3 separate regions of the Homo sapiens genome follow, and regions 2 and 3 are each linked to region 1. The links come from fine-mapping of genetic effects on plasma protein levels. Region 1 holds a variant in brackets. A gene starts in each other region. All regions are shown on their forward strands.

What was found. PIP is the posterior inclusion probability: the model's chance that the variant is causal. The UK Biobank Pharma Proteomics Project read protein levels with antibody pairs (Olink). The fine-mapping took linkage between variants from a reference panel, not from the people measured, so its PIPs are less certain.
Region 2: CRIM1 starts here. The variant in region 1 is fine-mapped to the plasma level of the CRIM1 protein (UK Biobank, PIP above 0.99).
Region 3: it holds the start of TNFRSF4, and the variant in region 1 is fine-mapped to the plasma level of the TNFRSF4 protein (UK Biobank, PIP 0.95).

What each region holds. Positions count from the first base shown.
Region 1 is chr12:118,070,103-118,076,622 of GRCh38, forward strand. It overlaps VSIG10 (V-set and immunoglobulin domain containing 10), which reads right to left. Exons shown (of 9, transcript NM_019086.6): 5 at 3,597-3,890; 6 at 1,257-1,367; 7 at 950-965. It overlaps LOC124903030 (a long non-coding RNA gene), which reads left to right. Exons shown (of 2, transcript XR_007063479.1): 2 at 6,072-6,520. Among named protein-coding and RNA genes, the nearest start is that of WSB2, 12 kb to the left of the region's middle. The variant ATGATCACCTCGGGCTGGG/A (reference allele first, on the strand shown) is at 3,752.
Region 2 is chr2:36,349,906-36,356,425 of GRCh38, forward strand. It overlaps CRIM1 (cysteine rich transmembrane BMP regulator 1), which reads left to right and starts at 5,873. Exons shown (of 17, transcript NM_016441.3): 1 at 5,873-6,520. The coding sequence starts at 6,388. CRIM1-DT (CRIM1 divergent transcript) reads right to left here and starts at 5,665. Exons shown (of 2, transcript NR_037631.1): 1 at 5,183-5,665; 2 at 4,844-5,076.
Region 3 is chr1:1,212,208-1,218,727 of GRCh38, forward strand. It overlaps TNFRSF4 (TNF receptor superfamily member 4), which reads right to left and starts at 1,946. Exons shown (of 7, transcript NM_003327.4): 1 at 1,776-1,946; 2 at 1,456-1,578; 3 at 785-886; 4 at 431-497. The coding sequence starts at 1,920. SDF4 (stromal cell derived factor 4) reads right to left here. Exons shown (of 7, transcript NM_016176.6): 6 at 6,251-6,426; 7 at 4,724-5,481. The coding sequence ends at 5,305. RefSeq lists a silencer at 1,024-1,073.

The DNA of each region.
Region 1 (6,520 bases):
TTTTTCCATAGGATCATAGAGAAGAGTACTCTGCTCCCACCCAGAATCTCCTTAGGAAATGAAATACACAAGTTCCGTTTGGTTCCTTCGCCCCTACTGGGGTTTCCTTTTGGGAGGGGGTTCTGGGCATGCTCATAGTAGTCTTCCAAAACACTGTAAAACTGGCTGGGTGCAGTGGCTCGTGCCTGTAATCCCGGCACTTTGGGAGGCCGAGGCGGGCAGACCACTTGAGGCCAGGAGTTTGAGACTAGCCTGGGCAACATGGTGAAACCCTGTCTCTACTAAAAATACAAAAATTAGCCAGGCTTGATGGTGCGCACCTGTAATCCCAACTACTCGGAAGGCTGAGGCAGGAGAATGGCCTCAACCTGGGAGGTAGGGATTGCAGTGAGCTGAGACTGCACCACTGCACTCCAGCCTGAGCAAGAGAGAGAGATTCTGTCTCAAAAAAAAAAAAAAAAAGAAAAAAGAAAAAGAAAAAAAAACTTAAGACTATGACTGATTCTTTCTTTTAGCTCTTTTTAGAAAATTAAATAAAACAAATGCATGAATGACTGGCTCAAAATGTACACATTGTCTTTCTGTCTCAATGACAGACCTGCAATGTGTCCAGCCCTGAGGTTTGGCGCTGTAAAAGAACACAGACTTTGGAATTGATTAGACCTGGACCTGAAGGAAGGCACTGCTGCTTTCTTCTGGAATGAGCTTGCAGAAATTACTTCACTGAGCCTCCATCCCCTTATCTGGAAAATGGAGATGTCACCACCACCCTGAGGAGATGATGAAAGGGTTTATAAGAATACCTGATGAAATCCCTAGGCCAGTGTCTAGCACATCGTAGGTCCTCAATGGTAGTTGCTATTATTGTTCTTGTGAAAGGAAGGGAACAAAACAGAAGTGAAGACAGATGCGGGAATGGGTGTTTGGTTTGATTCTAGGGAACACTCACCTGGAAGTGTTTCCTACTGAAGAGAGAAAGGAAAAACCATTAATATCCAGTAACATCCACTTCAACCTGACAGGTTCTTAATCAGGCAAACATTTACTAGAGGAACAAATAAGAAAACTGACTCAATATGACAGGTGATAGGGTGTCCCGGGATGGTACTTAGGTGACTTATTACTGTGTATCTTGACCCAGCAAAGAAGCCCAGAGAACAGAACTTCAGGTGGGAGCAAGGCAGGGGCCATCCTTCCCCATCCCGCACCTTTTCAAAAGTCTGGAAGAGAAGCTAAAGGACCCAGGGAGTCCTTACCTTTCCAGCAGAACACAGGGCTATAATGCAACAGAAGCCCTGAGATAATGGCCAGTCCCAGCAGAAGGAGGCTCACAATGGTTCCCACAATCCCCCCGATATTTAAAGGTTCTGTAAAGACAAATCACACCATTGATTCTTCCATCAGATATGTGTGCAATTAGAACAACACCTCCCTTTCTCTGCGTGGATCCAGTTCTTGTCTTGATTCCTGACCTTGGGTAAGGCTTATGACCTGTCTGTAATGCCAGATAAATATTTTATCACCCAACCTCAGAGAGTTTGTGGGGATCAGATGGAGCAGGGAATGTGAACAAACAATGGAAAGTTAAAATCTCTCTGTCTACCAAACACTGAGACTATTTCTAAGGCCATGGTAAGTAAGAGTGTTGAGAGTTATCAATGCCATGATAAACAGAGTGATCAACGGAACAGAACAGAGAGTCCAGGAACGGGTCCACACGTAAGTATAATTGATATATGACAGGGTCTTGAGCAAAGGAAGCACTATTTAAGAATTGGTACTAGAGCCCGGGCGCAGTGGCGCATGCCTGTAATCCCAGCACTTTGGGAGGCTGAGGAGGGCGGATCACCTGAAGTCGGGAGATCGAGACCAGCCTGACCAACATGTTAAAACCCCGTCTCTACTAAAAATACAAAATTAGCCAGGTGTGGTGGTGCATGTCTGTAATCCCAGCTACTTGGGAGGCTGAGGCAGGAGAATCACTTGAACCCGGGAGGCGGGGGTTGCGGTGAGCCAAGATCGCGCCATTGCACTCCAGCCTGGGCAACAAGAGCGAAATTCCATCTCAAAGAAAGAAAGAGGGCCGGGCGCGGTGGCTCACGCCTGTAATCCCAGCACTTTGGGAGGCCGAGGCAGGCGGATCACGAGGTCAGGAGGTCGAGACCATCCTGGCTAACACAGTGAAACCCCATCTCTACTAAAAATACAAAAAATTAGCCGGGCACAGCGGCGGGCGCCTGCAGTCCCAGCTACTTGGGAGGCTGAGGCAGGAGAATGGCATGAACCCAGGAGGTGGAGCTTGCAGTGAGCCGAGATCGCACCACTGCACTCCAGCCTGGGTGACAGAGCAAGACTCCGTCTCAAAAAAAAAAAAGAAAGAAAGAGGAGGGGAGGGGAGGGAAAGAAAAGAAGGAAGGTAGGAAAGGGAAAAGGGAGAAGAGAAAGGAAAAGGGAGAAGGGAAGGGAAGAAAGAGGCCAGGTGTGGTGGCTCATGCTTGCAATCTCAACACTTTGGGAGGCTGAGATGGGAGGCTCACTTCAGGCCAGGAGTTCAAGACCAACCTGGTCAACACAGTGCGACCTCATCTGTATAAAAAATAAAATAAAAAGAAATAAGTAGAGACATATATAGTAAAACTTAAAATTCAGGACCATGGTTACCTTTCGAGAGAGGCCCAAGATGAGACTAGGCCTACAGGGAGGGTTCCCAGGTAAAATTCAGTATGCCCAGTGAAATTTGGATTTCAGATAAACAATGAATAGTTTTTTTAGTGTAAGTATGTCTCATGAAATATTTGGGACACACTTATACTTAAAAGTATTTATTTTTCTAAACTCAAATTTAAGCAGGCATCCTGTTTTTAAAGTTCTATTGCTATTTTCTTCTTTTTGAAGTGGATTCTCGCTCTGTCACCCAAGCTGAAGTGCAGTGGTGTGATCTCGGCTCACTGCAACCTTCGCCTCCCAGATTCAAGCAATTCTGCCTCAGACTTCCGAGTAGCTGGGATTACAGGCACCTGCCACCATGCTCAGCTAATGGTCTCGAACTCCCAACCTCAGGTGATCTGCCCATCTCAGCCTCCCAAGTAATTTTGTATTTTTAGTAAAGACGAGGTTTCACCATACTAGCCAGGCTGGTCTCAAACTCCTGGCCTCAAGTGATCCACCCGCCTCGGCCTCCCAAAGTGCTGGGATTACAGGCGTGAGCCACTGTGCCCAGCCCTATCGTTGTTTCCAAATCTGGCCCTGAGACATACAAGTAACCTAATGCATGTTGGTACTATTCTGTATCCTCAGTGGGATGATAGTTTCTTAGGTGTTCATTTTGCTGTTATGCTTTACAACTGACATACACTAGATATCTATTCGTTGGTGTGTATAGATATTATGTAATTTTTGCTACCTATGGAAATATTAGTGAGTTTAGGGTTGGATAATTTCTTCCAGCCACCTTGTCAAGTCATAAGCAAGCAGATATGCCTTCTCCCAGTTGGCAGTGACCCATGTGTAGGGAGGCACCAGGCTGTCCTCATGCTGATGCTGGGTGCTCTGAAGCTCTGAACCCTCCCTCCTTCAGGCCCAGTTCCACCACTCACCTTTCACACTCAGCCAGATTTCCATCTCCCTCACCCCTACAGGGCTGTCAGCTCGGCAGATGTAGTAGCCCTCATCCAGGTCCTGGGAGCAGTTGTGGATAGTGAGGGTGGAGTTCTGGCCATCCTGGGTAATGAGATGGCGGCTGCTAGGCTGG[ATGATCACCTCGGGCTGGG/A]TAAGGTTCCTCAGCCACAGGATCTTGGCAGGGGGGTAGGCCCCAGACACCTGGCATGTAAGCGTCACATTGCCCCCAGTGAAGCAAGTCTTCATGGGCTCAGAGAGAAGGGAGGGACCCCCTGGTGATCAGAAGGTAAACAAAGACAAATGTTTAAAGAGATTCAAGTCATGGCCTGAGATCTGCAGGAAAACTGCAGTAGTTTTTTGTTTTGTTTTGTTTTGTTTTGAGATGGAGGTTTTGCTCTGTTGCCCAGGCTGGAGTGCAGTGGTGCGATCTCAGCTCACTGCAACCTCTGCCTCCCTCCCGGGTTCAAGCAATTCTCCTGCCTCAGCCTCCCGAGCTGGGATTACAGGCATGCGCCACCACACCTGGCTAATTTTTGTATTTTTAGTAGAGACAGGGTTTCACCATGTTGCCCAGGCTGGTCTCAAACTCCCAACCTCAGGTGATTTGCCCATCTCAGTCTCCCAAAGTGCTGGGATTACAGGCGTGAGCCACCGCATCCGGCCCCAGTCCCCTTTATCTGTGATTTCACTTTCTGAGGTTTCAGTTACCATGGTTGACTACAGTCCAAAAATACTAAATGGAAAATTTCAGAAATGAACAATTTTTTTTTTTTTTTGAGATGGAGTCTCACTTTGTCGCCCAGGCTGGAGTGCAGTGATGCAATCTCAGCTCACTGCAATCTCCACCTCCTGAATTCAAGAGATTTTCCTGCCTCAGCCTCCCAAGTGGCTGGGATTACAGGCATGAGCCACCACGCCCACCTAATTTTTGTATTTTTAGTAGAGACGGGGTTTCACCATATTGGCCAGGCTAGTCTCAAACTCCTGACCTCAGGTGATCCACTTGCCTTAGCCTCCCAAAGTGCTAGGATTACAGGCGTGAGCCACCGTGCCGGGCCAATTCATAAATTTTTTATTTTTTCATTTCTTGCAGTACTTTTAAGTATATTCACAATTTCCTAAGTTTTAAACTGCACATTGTTCTGAGTCGTGTGACGAAATCTCACACCATCTGCATGAGCCTTTCTTCATCACAAGAAGGCTGAGTAGATATTTTGAGAGAAAGATCACATTCGCATACCTTTTATGACAGTATATTGTTATACTTGTCTATTTTTTATTAGTTACTATTGTTAATCTCTTATTGTGCCTAATGTATAAATTAACCTTATCATAAGTATTTATGTATAAGAAAAAGCATAGTATATATATGTATATATGTATATATGTGTATATGTATATATATGTGTATATATGTATATATGTGTATATGTATATATATGTATATATATGTATATATGTGTGTATATATATATGTGTGTGTGTGTATATATGTGTGTGTGTGTATATATATATATAGGGTTCAGTGCTACCCATGGCTTCAGGCATCCACTGGGGATCTAGGAACATATCCCTCATGGGTAAGGCAGGAACACTACATTTCCTTCCTAATGAAGCAACTCCAGAAATTTCTTTTTTTCTTTTTTTGTTTTTGAGACAAGGTCTCGCTCTGTCACCCAGGCTGGAGTGCAGTGCTGTGATCTTGGCTCACTGCAACCTCTGCCTCCCAGGTTCAAGTGATTCTCATGCTTCAGCCTCCCAAGTAGCTGGGATTACAGGTGCCTGCCACCATGCCTGGCTAATTTTTGTACTTTTAGTAGAAACAGGGTTTCACCATGTTGGTCAGGCTGGTCTTGAACTCCTGACCTCAAATGATCCTCCACCTTGGCCTCCCAAAGTGCTGGGATTACAGGCATGAGCCACCGTGCCTGGCCAACTCCAGAAATTTCTCCACCACACCTCGTCTTACATCATAATAAGCCTAAGATTACTAGGCATTTACTGTGGGCAAGGCACTGTTACATGTATTAACCCAATTCACTCTCACAGCAACCCTGTTATTATGCCCATTTTGCAGATAAGGAAACTGAGGCACAGAGAAAGTTAAGTAATTTGCTGAATGCTACAGAACTAAATAGGCAATGCAGCTAGGATTCAGAGTGATCAACTGCCCCAGTCTGCCCAGGACGTGGAGTATTCCCAGAATGAGGAGTTTTCAGTCCTAAAACCAGGAGAGTTCTGTGCAAACCAGGATAAACTGGCTACTGTATCCATAAGCCTTCCTTCTATGCTATACACTTTTACACATAAAAACTGTACTGATCGTATAAAAATGGACACATATCTGACAAGGATTTCAAGGGGACAAGAGGGCAGCTGTATTTGTTTCCAATTGCTGATGTAATAGATTGTGACAAACTTAGTGGCTTAAAGCACATTTATTCTCTTAACAGTTGTGGAGGCCAGGAGTCTAGAACGTCTTACAAGGTTAACATCAAGATGTTGGCAGAGCTGGTTCCTTTTGGACGCTCTAGAGCAAGCTTTTCCAACCTGCAGCTGCGGGCTAAATTCGGCCCAGGATGGCTTTGAATGTGAGGACATTTTTGTTTATCTGTGTGATGGATATCATGAAAATTATGCACGGTCCCTTTTTTTTTTTTTTGGCTCATCACCTATCGTTAGTGTTAGTGTTTGTGTGAAATACATTCCCATGATCAAATTACCTCCCACCAGGTCCCTCTGCCAATATTTGGAGTTACAATTCAACATGAGATTTGGGTGGGGACACAGAGCCAAACCATATCATGGTGTTTCGCTGTGTTGCCCAGGCTGGTCTCAAACTCCTGGGCCCAAGCAATATGCCCGTCCTTGGCCTCCCAAAGTGCTGGGATTACAGTCATGA
Region 2 (6,520 bases), not on the chromosome of region 1:
GATACATATCCCATTTTATATTTTATACTGTATGGGGAAAATAAACCTTCAAGGATGTGTCACAAATGTTATCAGTGGTTTTATCTCACCTGAGATAAAACCATTATAGGTGATGTTTTTCTTTCTTCTTTTTTTCTTTTTTACTTGTCTGTCTTTTCTCTTTTTTCCCCCAGTGAGCATGTATTTGTTAAAAAACATACATTAGAAGTAATATTGCATAGAGTGGATTCTGTCCCCATACTGCCTAGGTTTGAATTCCAATTTTTCCTTTACTGGAAAAGTAAGAGACAGTGTGTCACTCTGTCACCCAGCCTGGAAGGCAGTGGTGTAATTTCGGCTCACCTCAGCCTCAACTTCACAAGCTCATGCAATCCTGCCACCTTAGCCTCCTGAATACAGGCACATCCCACCATGCCTGGCTAGTTCATTATTATTATTATTTTGTAGATATGGGTTCTCCTTATGTTGCCTAAGCTGGTCTCAAACTCCTGGGCTCCAGCGATCCACCCAGTTTGGCCTCCCAAAGTGCTGAGATTGCAGGCATGAGCCACCGCACCCACCCCAATTTTTCCTTTTAAATAGGTGTAAATGTACCTGTAAAATGCAGTACCTACCTCATCAGCTTTTATGGAGGATTAAATGTGGTAATATTGTAAGGTAATTAAAAAATATGCACATGGCAAACGTTACATAAATATTTGTTATTCAGTAGTTAGGAAAGCAATGATCTTATTTCCATTTTGAGAAAACGCTGATCAGTATTTAAACTTCTCAAAGAAGACAAGATATTGTCATAGATGTTAGCAATTTTAAATGAGGTCCACAAAAAACAACAAAACTGAAAAGAAAAGCAGCTCACCATTACCCAACTTACTGAATTGAGGTAGTTAAACACACAGGCCCTTAAGGCAGAATAGGACTGAGTTCTAAGCTTAATATCCATACACATAGCTCTGAGACCTTGACAAGCCACACAACCTCCTATAACTCAGATTCCTCACCTGTAAAAAATGAAGACAACGTAAGGCACTAGAGATAATAGAAACCATTGGTCTTACAGCGCTCTTCCGTAGATTACTTAAAATAACCTATATGAAGCACTTAGCATGTTGACTAGCAATTAATAAGATCTTTATTAGTGTCAGCTATTACTATTATCATTACCAATTACTGCTCTTTAAAATAAGTCAGAGACCAAAATGAGTCTGAGAAAATATCACAGAGGCTAAAACCCCAAGATGAGACAGACTGTCAAAACAAGGCCAACAGAAGATCCTAAGAAAGAAAAAAAAAAAAGCAAATATCTGATCCAGCAGATGTTGCACAGCAATGGATGCTAAGATAACAGAGAGCAGGGATTCCAGCTCAAGCATAAAACTTGAGGAGACACTCAATTAGAAGGACTCTAAAAATAACAATAGAAAAGGAGAGCAATCATTTTATCCACACGATACCCTGTATGGTTGGTATTCTTGTCTCTGTTTTACAGAGAAGACAGATTCAGAAAGGATAAATACCTTGTTTAAACTTGTACACAGAGAGAGAGAGAGAGAGAGAGAGAGAGAGTGTGTGTGTGTGTGTGTGTGTGTCAGGATCCTAGGCCAAACATCAAAGAGAACCTGTGTTCTGTGCAGATGTCTTGTAAACCTTGTGGTAGTTCTGCAGCAGCTATCATTCACAGGCAGAGTAAATAAGAACCCACTTAGCAAAAATAAGGTATTACGTGGTGATAATAGAGTTCAATTTCAGATTAAGAGTCCAACATCCAGATGGTTGAGCCTCCAAACTAGGGTCTGTCTATATCACTGCAGTGCCAAGCCTAGATTAAGTGAGAACCCATATATAGGTGATCCCAGCTGAGGAGACCAGAGAGATGGCCTAAGAGGGTAAAACGGGCCAGACCTGCTACCCTGGTTTATTCGTACCACTTTCTAATATGTATGCAACGTTTTCATAACACAATGAGGTTTCTTCTCTTGTGCAACTCAATTCCAAGAGTATGTGAGTCAAACTCAAAGGCAACTTCTACATTCTTCTTTTCATTTCAGGAAGAGAAAATACAAAGTGCAACTCAATTCCAAGAGTATGTGAGCCAAACTCAAAGGCAACTTCTACATTTTTCTTTTCATTTCAGGAAGAGAAAATACAGAGTGTGACTATAGGTGGACTAGACACTGTATCGGAAAGGCGGGGTCTAATACTAACATTCTGTCTATTGCCCTCTCATTTCCACTTTCTGCTTAGGCCAACAAATGGGCACTTTGATTTTCGACATTTTCAACAATTTATTAATCCCCAGGATGGCCAATAGAGGGCAGACGATCTCTTCTTCTAGACCTCCATCAGAAATACTTCGTAATTCCTGGTTCGTTGCAGACCTGTTCCCCAACCCCTCCCCCACCCCCCCACCACCCCCACCCCAAACTTCGATGACTCCCTCCTGCCCATACCATCCCTTTCAAGTACTGATTTTGAGGTATTTACTAAAACCAAGAGAGAAGGGCTGCAGACAATAATATTCAAATATCATTTTGACTGTAATTCTTCACTCTCCCTTTTTCAACTCATTCATGCATGCATTTTTATAAATCCTGCCCTCTCCAATAAGCTGACAAGCTAATTGGGTTCAGAGTTATTTAAATAACTATAATGTAACATGATAAATGCTACAAGCAGAGGTACTTACAAATGCTGTAGAACAGATAAAGAAGCTCAAGAAGGCTTCTCAGAAAGGGAGGCCTTTCATGTGTGGCTCTAATTCTTAACATTCGTTCATGACTTTCAGGGTCCATTCAATTTCAGGGTAATTCTTCCTAGTCCACTTTCACCCGTGACACCTGATTGTCATCATGTTGGGCTCACCCAAACTCTTTCTGTAACCATAGTCTGGTCTTTGAAGATAAGAAAATACTTTTGTATTCGAGCCTCAGTATCATTGCCTCAGCTTCTCACTACCTCATTATCATCCCTCCTGGATCCCAGAGAAGAAAGAGCTGTTTCATAACTGAGCTCCTGATTCACACACTGGTTTCAGAAAAGCTGCCAGGACCTTGCAGGTTTCTCATTCGCCACTAGTCACTGGCTTCAAGGAATCCTATTTTCTCTATTGCTTCTATGACTATTAATTTTATGCCAAAGGGCATGTGTAATGTAACTTGATTTTTTTTTTCTTTTTGAGCTGATACAATCATCTTCATCTTAAAGAATCTCCCTAGTCCTTTCTAAACCTGACTTGAATTCCTGTGAGAAGTCAACCTTTCTCATGTTGTATCTGTCCATCTACCTTCCAGGTGGTTCTACTTCTGAAGTCCCAGGAACAATGAATAGTCATCTCCAAATTATCCTTTGCCTGTGCTCATCTGTAGCTTTCCTTAATCCTTAATATATCCCCTTAAAAATAAATAGAAGCTAAACTTTGACAATGCTTATTACCTCCTTCTTTCCTAACCACAGTAGCTTTCTCACTTCTGCCTTTTTCTCATCACCTGACCTTGGCTTTTCCTGCAGGTCCTACAATGTTATCTGCTACATTTTAATGTCTTTATACTTGCATTTGAACAGAAATACAGATAACCTCCTCTGCAAGAGTGGGAGGGACCTTTTAACACAGAGCAATGATGACAGTTTGTTGGCAAATCCCACACTGAAGTGCTGGTGCCTTGTTCGGTGACAAGAAAGAACAATGTTTAACAATGTGTGTTTTATTTTTCTTCAGTTTTTTTGTTTGTTTGTTTTTGAGACAGAGTCTTGCTCTGTCGCCCAGGCTGGAGTGCAATGACGCAATCTCGGCTCACTGCAACCTTCACCTCCTGGGTTCAAGTGATTCTCCTGCCTCAGCCTCCTGAGTAGCTGGGATTACAGGCATGCGCTACCACACCCGGCTAATTTTTGTATTTTTGATAGAGACAGGGTTTCACCATGTTTCACCATGTTGGCCAGGCTGGTCTCGAATTCCTTACCTCAAGTGATCTGCCCACCTTGGCCTCCCAAAGTGCTGGGATTATAGGCATGAGCCACCACGCCCAGTCTCTTCGGTTTTTCTAATAGAAAACCTAGCATATTTTAAACGATTTTGCCACTTAACACTTATTATGGACCCACAGGGTATGAGGGCCTTTGGAGATCATCTAATCGGACTTCCCACCCAACTACAGGAATCATTTCATTGCAACAACTCTTTAAACCCGTCTAGAAAATGCAATGCTCTCTCCCCTTTTCCACGGTTGAACATCTTCCTCATGGCCCTATAATAATCAATGATAATTAATGAGCCTCTTCCTCTCCTTGGACAAAGAAATATGATAGGAGAAATGTTTAGTTTGCTGATGCCCATCATGGGGGAATAGTCCACTGGTAACTCTGGCTTTTGGGTTCAGGATTAGACAGAGTGGTTAAACTAAAATATTTATCGTAAGTATGAATTTGTTCCACAAACATAACATTTCAAAGGTAGCTTTGTTTCCTCTTTCCTTGCACTGCCAGCTATTAACTTTCGGTTCATTAGTCACGATTTTCAGAATCCACTTGGCTGCCACCTTCCTGCAGCCAGACCATCTTGGATCAGAGGGTGGGCCAGCCATTCCCACGTCACACCTGCCACGGGATCGATTTTTTCCCCCATTGACCACAGTCACTTTTTGTCAATTAATTAATGTTATTCACCTGGTACCCATCTTGTGAATGGTAGGTCACTACGGAGCGGATTACTACTTCATATCCCATCAATGACAGAGCCATCATTACGAAAACCTTTTCTGACAACCACTGAAGAGAAACCATCTCCACACCGTGCATTTTGCATCACTTCCGTTGCTTCTTTACCTGATTTATCACAAAGACTATGTACCACACATCTTCTTTATTAATGCATTGACAATCAGTGAAGACAATGAAAACCCACCACTTTTGTCCGTGAACTGAGAAAGAAAATGGCAATGTCATATGGCATTAATGATGCATGAGATCTATGGGTGTAGTGTCACGTCTAGGCGTGTAGTAATCCAGTCTTCGGCCTTACTCCAGGGAGAAAGATTCAGCTTTGTTACTTTCCAGTCACTCTCTCCCGTAACACAGCACCTTGGCACAGAAAGCAGAGCGACAAAACCCAGAATGAGGACAGTTAAAATTCAACTCAAGCTACAGCCATCCCAACGGTCCTCCCCAGCTCCCGCGGAATATTTACCAAGACCGTTTAAAGCACTTAATTAATTCACTTCAGCTTCGCTGGAGAGGTCTCAGGGTTCCCGAGACTCCATTACATAATATCTTTCACAAAGTCTATTCCCAGCTCGAATGGAAGATGGATTCTCATCCAGTGTGCGGAGGTTCCATGCCTTTGCTTCCCTTTCCCGGAGTTCGATCCGGCGATACCCTCCCGAGGCTGCAGCCATCGCCCCGGCCCCGAGCTTCTGGGGTACCCGCCACTCTTCGAACTCCAATCTGGCCCCGAAGGTGCAGCCGCCTCGCCCTCCTGGCTCCCAGGCCGGCCGCTGCGGCCACGGTGCCAGCGAGCGCCCGGGACACCGCGACTCTCGCTGCTCGCTGGGTGCGCCCCAAGCCCATCCGCAGCGCACCCGCGGCGCCGGGGCCAGAGCCGCAGCTCGGTGGCACGGCCGGCTCGGTGCGCCGGGCTCGGGGAGGAGGAGATCGGGAAGAGGTGGAGGCGTGTGAGGGAGGGAGGAAGGGCCCGGCCGCCCGAGAGGGGGAGGGGGAGGCGGAGGGGGCCGGCCGGGCCGGGGAGGGGGGGCAGCCAATGAGCGGCGCGCGGCGCGTGGGGGTGGGGGGAAGGTCTGGGGGAGGAGGTAGGATGGGGGAGGGCGCAGCCCGAGCGGCTGAGGCTCCAGCCATAAACAAGCGCCCGGAGGAGCGGCGCAGGAGTGAGGCGAGCGGGGCGCGCGGAGCGGACGCCGCGGATCTTGTGCTGCGCCACCGCGCCCACTCGGCAGCTCGGGAGGCGGGGACCGGCCCGGAGGCTGCGCCGCTGCGGGGCCGGCCGACTCGGAGGAGGAGAGGGAGGAGGCGCCGCCGGCCCGGGCTGGAGCCGAGCGCAGCAGCCACCGCCGCCGCCGCGCCAGAAGTTTGGGTTGAACCGGAGCTGCCGGGAGGAAACTTTTTTCTTTTTTCCCCCTCCCTCCCGGGAGGAGGAGGAGGAGGAGGAGGGGAAGCTGCCGCCGGCGCCAAGGCTCGTGGGCTCGGGGTCGGCGCGGCCCGCAGAAGGGGCGGGGGCCTCGCCCCGCGAGGGGAGGCGCGCCCCGGGGGCCCCGAGAGGGGCGGTGAGGACCGCGGGCTGCTGGTGCGGCGGCGGCGGCGCGTGTGCCCCGCGCAGGGGAGGGCGCCCGCCCCGCTCCCGGCCCGGCTGCGAGGAGGAGGCGGCGGCGGCGCAGGAGGATGTACTTGGTGGCGGGGGACAGGGGGTTGGCCGGCTGCGGGCACCTCCTGGTCTCGCTGCTGGGGCTGCTGCTGCTGCTGGCGCGCTCCGGCACCCGGGCGCTGGTCTGCCTGCCCTGTGACGAGTCCAAGT
Region 3 (6,520 bases), not on the chromosome of region 1:
CAGGGTCCACGCTGGCCAGCCACAGGCAGCATCTACCACAGACACCAGGCCAGTGACAGCCAAGGACGCTGCCCAGCCCCACGTGCCCCCCACAGGGGCCTCCAAGGCCACACACCCTTCTCCCACATCTACACCCCCCACCAGCACCTCCCTGTCCTGTGCCCCCAGGGCCTCCCAGCTGCGGAGGGTGAGGGTCCCACACACCCAGCTCCACCCACAGGGAAAGGCTGCCCCCAGGCAGCAGCTTCCTGCTCCCCAACCAGGTCCAGCCACATAGCCAGGCCCCCAGGGCCACCAGCACCTCCCCTTCCCCCAAAACTGCCCCCACCCCACCTGCCCCCCCAGCCCCTCCCAGCTCCCCAGCTCCTCCGCCCTCCTAACCACCCCAACCCCCCCCCAGCCCCTCCCAGCCCCTGGCCAGGCCCCTCACTTGGTCCAGGGCTTGCAGGCCTGGTTGTCGCCTGGGGAGAAGTGCCCTGGAGGGCAGGGGGCACAGTCTGCAACAAAGATAGGGTGGTCAGGGGCTGCCCACAGGCCCCGGGTGCTGGGGACATGGGGCAGAGCCTGTGGGGCAGGCACTTGCCCCCCATGGCTGGGTGGTGGGTTTGGCCTCTGGAAGCCCTCCCTGCCCACATCCCACCCGTGGGCCCTGACCCGGGAGCTCGGTCTTGAGGATGCCAGAGGAGGCACCGGTGGGGCCAGGTCCCTGCGGCCCACGGCCCATCTGCGTCACAGACAGCCGCTATGCACACCCCCAACCGCCGGCCGCAGCCACCGAGCTCACCAACTCCAGGCTTGTAGCTGTCCAGGGGCTGGGTGCCCGCCCGGCAGCGGCAGACTGTGTCCTGTGTGGCCGTGCACAGCTGCTTCCGCTCACTCCCACTTCCTGAGCAGGGGCCGGATGGGGGGGTGGTCAGGTGGGGGCTGTGGACAGGGTCCTCAGGAAGCGTGGGCACTGGAGGACAGGTTGGCCTCCCCACCACACAGAGGGCCGTGGGCAGGGGTCTGCGGCCTCCCCTGAGACTTGGAGCCCCTGCAGCCCCCGAGGCTCCTGGGCCCTCCCTTCCTGGCCACAACCTGGGGCTGGTTCCGTGGCAGCCCCAGCCACCCTTCCCTACCCCTCCACCGCCTCCAGCCGCCAGCCCCGCCTGCGGCAGGGTCTCCATGGCCCAACCCCCCAGCCTCACTGCTCAGGCCAGCAAGGCCAGGCCACATGGCCAGCGTGGTCTCCCCGACTCCACGTGGCCTGGGCCGAGTCTGGGCCCCCGGAGGGAGAGGGGGTGCCCCTGGGAGACGCCTCAGCTCCTCGAAGGACCCCTGTGGCGGAGCAGACCCCGCTGTGGTTTGAGGTTCGTTTCTGCGGCTGTGGGAGCCCCATGCTGCTGCGTGGGAATGTGGGTGCCAGGCTGCCGCCCCCTGTGCTGGGTGGGGCTGTGGGGCCAGGTGGGAGCTCACTGAGGTTACACCACGTGCAGGGCTTGCACGGCTTGGAGCTGACCACGTCGTTGTAGAAGCCCGGCCCGCACGGACGGCACACCGTGTTCTGGGAGCGGCTGCAGCGGCTCACCATCCCGTTGCCTGCAGCAGAGGCCGGCGTCAGGCAGCGGTCAGGCCCCAGGCTTGCGCCCGTGGACCCCCCCAGGCGGCTCCTCTGCCAGGCTTGGCCGGCCCCTCACCCGCCCCCTCCCCAGGACCAGCCTCCTGGCTGGCCCATCCCTGCCCCAGCCCCCAGTCCCTGGAGTGCCCGTGCGTGGCGACCCCTCCTGAGGCCTCACCTGGCCTGCACTCGTGGCAGCACCGGTCGTTGCTGGGGTAGGTGTCCCCGACACAGTGGAGCCCCGTCACGGTGCTCAGCCCCAGGCCCAGGAGGAGCAGAGCCGCACACGGCCCGCGGCCCAGCCGCCGAGCCCCCACGCACATCCTCGTCTCTGCTGTCGCCAGAGTCTGGGTTTTCCTTGCGGGGTGTGGCTATAAGGACTGTGGAGGAGGGGAGGGGAGAGGGGAGGAGGGCAGAGGAGGCGGGAGGAGGAAGGTGGCAGGCCGGGGACCCTGGCTGTGGGCTGGGCACAAAGGCGGGGTCTGGGCACCCCCAGCATTGGCTTATTCTGCCTTCTGACCTCTTCTGCCCAAGACCACCGTGTTCAGACCCCAGGGCACAGTAGGGCCTGGCCTGCGGCTCGACCCTCAGCAAAAAGGTCCATGGAGCACGTGGGTAAACTGAGGCAGCACTGAGTCAGGAGAGGCAACTCCTCAGTCTGGACCTTCAGGGCTGTGGCACTGCTGAAGCATGGTCCCCCTTGTATGCCCAAGACTAGCTCTGAGCAGCAGTGACCACAGCCATGGTAAGACAGACACCCATGGCCAGGCACGGTGGCTCCCGCCTGTAATCCCAGCACTTTGGGAGGCCAAGGCGGGTGGATCACCTGAGGTCAGGAGTTCAAGACCAGTCTGGCTAACATGGCGAAATCCCGTCTCTACTAAAACTACAAAAATTATTCGGGCGTGGTGGCGGGCGCCGGTAATCCCAGCTAGTCAGGAGGCTGAGGTAGCAGAATCACTCGAACCCAGGAGACAGAAGTTGCAAAGCAGAGGTGGCGCCACTGCACTCCAGCCTGGGCGACAGGGCGAGACTCATCTCAAAAAAAAAAAAAAAGACACCCGTGACCACAGCCCACGCTGAGTGTGCCTGAGCACGGCAGGTGTCTATGGCTGAACTGTGCCCCTTAAATTCCTGCGTGGAAGCCCTAACCCCCATGTGGCAGTGTTTGGAGACAGGCCTCTGAGGAGGTGGTGAGGGTGGGTCCTGGATGGCCTGGCGCACACGGGCACGCAGGCAGGTTTCCACCTTCTATGCAAACAGTTCTCAGGTTCCAGGTTTGCCCAGAGGATGCGAACTGCCCGGAGAGCTGGGGAGCAGGTGCGGGGCTGGGGGCTCCCTGGGCCCTTTCTGCACCTTTCAAATAACTGTGACCAGCCTGTGATTATCCAAAAGTTCATTTTTGAAGTTGCAAGTGGAGAGGGGCCTCTAGGAACAGAGCAGCAGGGAAGGGGCTGGAAATCCCCTCCTCCCAGGAGCACAGGAAACAGCTGCCTGTCCTCGGCCCACCCGTGGGGAAATTCCCAGCCGTGGAGCCCGCTGGCCCTGGAGAGGGAGGGAGTGGAGGGAGAGGCCACCCGCCCTCGGACTGAGGGTCCCTAAGTTGGTCACCCTCCCCACGTCCCCACAAGTAGAGAGGACCCTGGAAGGGCTCAGAGCATCCCAGACAGTGTGTGTACCTGCATGTGCACACCCCAACCCAGGTGGGCAGAGGAGGAAAGTTCTGGCATTTTGTGGAAGGTTCCACCCAGCGTTCACAAGGGTTTCCCACTGACAGTGAGAAAAAGCTTACATTTGCAATTGGTTCCTTGGAGGTTCAGGTGAACTGGGGGTCTTGGTGGGCAACACTGCTCTCCTGGGGCCTAAGTGGCCACATCTGCCCACAGGTGCAGTGAGTGGGGCCCGTGCACCATGGAGAGGGCACCCCCAGCATATTGCTGGCAACTGCAATGGCCCCAGGATGGGGCACGGCCCCTCCTGCTTGAAGCTGCCCAGGAAGCTCAGGTCTCCTTGTCCTGGGCTTAAGGTCACAGGTCCAAGAAAGCCCTGCTGTGTCCATGGAACCGGGTGTGGCGTGGCCACAGGAGGCTGGACACTGACCCAGAGCTCAGGACCCCCAAGGTCTGTAAGGCAGCCTGCAGCTCGAACCACATCCCCAGGAGCTGGGCTCCCCGCTCCACACAGTAGTGTCGCGGGCGGCACAGGGCAGCCCATGAGTGGCCACTGCTCCTCCAGTACCAGACTGGAGCTGGCTGGGGCCTCTGAAGGGCCAGGTGCCACCACATACCCAGCTGTCCCCCCGCCTTCATGTCCAGCACAGCATGGCCTCAGCTCACACCTCCCACCTCTGGGTGCACGGCCCTCAGCACAGGGCGTCGAATGCTGCTGCAGCTATGATGGTCCCTGGCTGTGGCCTGGGGCCACGGATGGGGAAAGACAGAGTCCAGGCCACCGAAGGTTGGCTCCAGGGAATTACAGCCCCTTAGAGCAGGGCGTGGGACCATCCTCCCACCACCTGCGCTGGCCGTGGCTCTGTGAATCTCGTTTGCCTGGGAACCAGCCCAGGTGCCAACCCGCCCTCTCGGCCCCACAGGGGCCCCTGGGCAGGTGGGCTCAGGGCAGAGGCCGGTCACATGGGCACCACAGGGCAGACTGAAGAGGACACACTCCCGGCTTCCCTGAGCTCCCACTGGGAGAGCCAGGACACAGCCTGGGCCCCCACACGCCACAGAGCAGGACCCCCACCAGCCGTCCTAACACACCCCATTCTCTGCCCCATCTGGGGCTAGGCCTGCCCCACTGCACCCAAAGACCTTGCCATCCTCCACCCAAAACCCCCAGGCGGCTCTGTCTCCTGCCTTAAATGTCCAAACCCCAAACTCAGTGGGCACGTCTGCTGCCCCCTGACCCCTACTCACAAACGCAGCGCTGCCCTCCGTCCTCCCAGAGCCCCTGCCCGTTGCCACCTGCCAGGAGAATCACCTCGAACCGGCCATGACCTCCAACCCTCCACGTGACCCAGCACCAGCCTCCAGCGCTCCAGTGGAAACTGTAACCACAAACCTAGCACGCTGCTGTTGTGTTTTGTTTCACGCCCAAAGAATGAAGCTGACCAAAAAAGGCAACTATATTTAAAGTAAATGTATGTGATTCTTGTCACAACAAATATTTGCATTTTCTCAGCGGCAGCTGCGGGACCTGGGTGGCTCCGACACGCCAGGCCCGGGAAGGACCCGGCACCCTCCCCTGAACTTCCTGGCTACTCATTTCCAGCGAAGTTTAATCTATTTTTAATAATCGTTCAGTTTTCAAGGAAATGGAGGAGCTGTTTTTTCCCACGGAGCGGCGGCCCTGGGAGGGGCCGGGCCCAGAGGTTCCGGCCGCGATGCCGTCAGCGCCTTCGGCAGAGTGACTGAAGCGAGATTTCGTTCTCAGAAGTGAGATGCCACGATTTCGAGGGACCAGGGAGGAGGCGGCGCCGCGGGGCCACAGCCCAGCCCCGCGCCCCGACCGCGTCACAGCCAAAGCCCCGCCGGGGTGCGCGCTGCAGAGGGGACACGCCGCTCATCAACTGGGGCAGCCGCGGTCGGTCGGCCGGTGGCGGGCGGCAGGGAAGAGGTGGGGTCCGGGACAGCCACGGAGCCCGGAGTCACCCGCGAGGCCGCCCCGGTGGTGCGTGGGGGGCGGCGCGGGGCGCGGCCGGGCGCTCAAAACTCCTCGTGCACGCTGCGCGCGTAGTCCACCAGCTTGCTGCCCGTGAAGAACTCGCTGTACTTGAGCACCTCCTCGGGCTCCAGGTGGTGGTTCTGGTTCTCGTCGGCGACGGCGATCATCTGCTTGGCCTCGTTCAGCGCGTTGTACTCGTTCATGGGGTCCATGTAGCTCTGCGGGCGAGCGGGGCACAGGTCAGCGTCGCCTTTCCCCCTCCGAGCTCCGCGGCCAGCCGCACGAAGTGGCTATTTAAGGTGCCTATTGGCTGCAGCGGGAGTGTGGGCACGTTCTGGAAGGTTCCCGAAGGGAGGCGGCACAAATGAAAACACAGGGCAGGGAGAAGCCGGGGGCCCCGGAAGGCCTGCCCGGGGCCAGCAGGGGTAACGGGGCACAGGGGCTACACAGGCCTGGACCCCAGTTCTGAAGGATCCCTAACCTGGGCCGGGCCCACTGGCTGTCGCCAGGAATCACAGGATTCTACATAAAAACAAGATGACTCACTCAGCAGTGGGAGAAAAACAAGCCTACACATGATACCAGTGAAAACGCTTCAGAGGAAGGTGGTAAATTCCAGCCATGTGGCACAGGCCGCCCCGCCCACCTGCACCTGCTGGGCCTTGGACCTGCCTCCATGCTGGGCCCAGCATGAGCTTCCCCTTGTGGTCCCGTTAAAAAGGGGCTGTGAGAACCCTGACGCCTCCGCAAGGGGCTGAGGATGGAGCCCGGCCAGGCTCGCCTGTCTCTGATCCGTCTGAACCTAAACGCCAACAACGGCCATGCAGCCTGGTGGACACCGCTGAGCAAACGCCCCAGTGACCAGCCCAGATGGAGTCTCAGGCCAGACACCAGCACAGCTTCCTGCCTCAGGCCCAGATCCACCAGCCCCTCCCGCCACAGCACCTCGCAGGGCCGGCTCCGGGACACGGCTGCGCCAGGGCTCACCTCCAGCTCCTCGGCGGTCACGATGCCGTCGTGGTTGGAGTCAATGAGCTCCTCAAACTCCTTTTTTCTGTCTTTCACCCAGTTGTCGTCAATGTCCTGGCCCTGCTGGTTCTCCACGGTGCCCACGGGCAGGGAGATGAACTCGGGCACAGAGAGCTGCTTGTCACCGTCCTGGTCTGCGAGACGGGAATGGGTCAGCCCACACCCAGGCTGGGGCTCCCGCAGGACCTGCCCCGACCTCCCGACGATGCCCGGCCCCTGCCAGTCGGT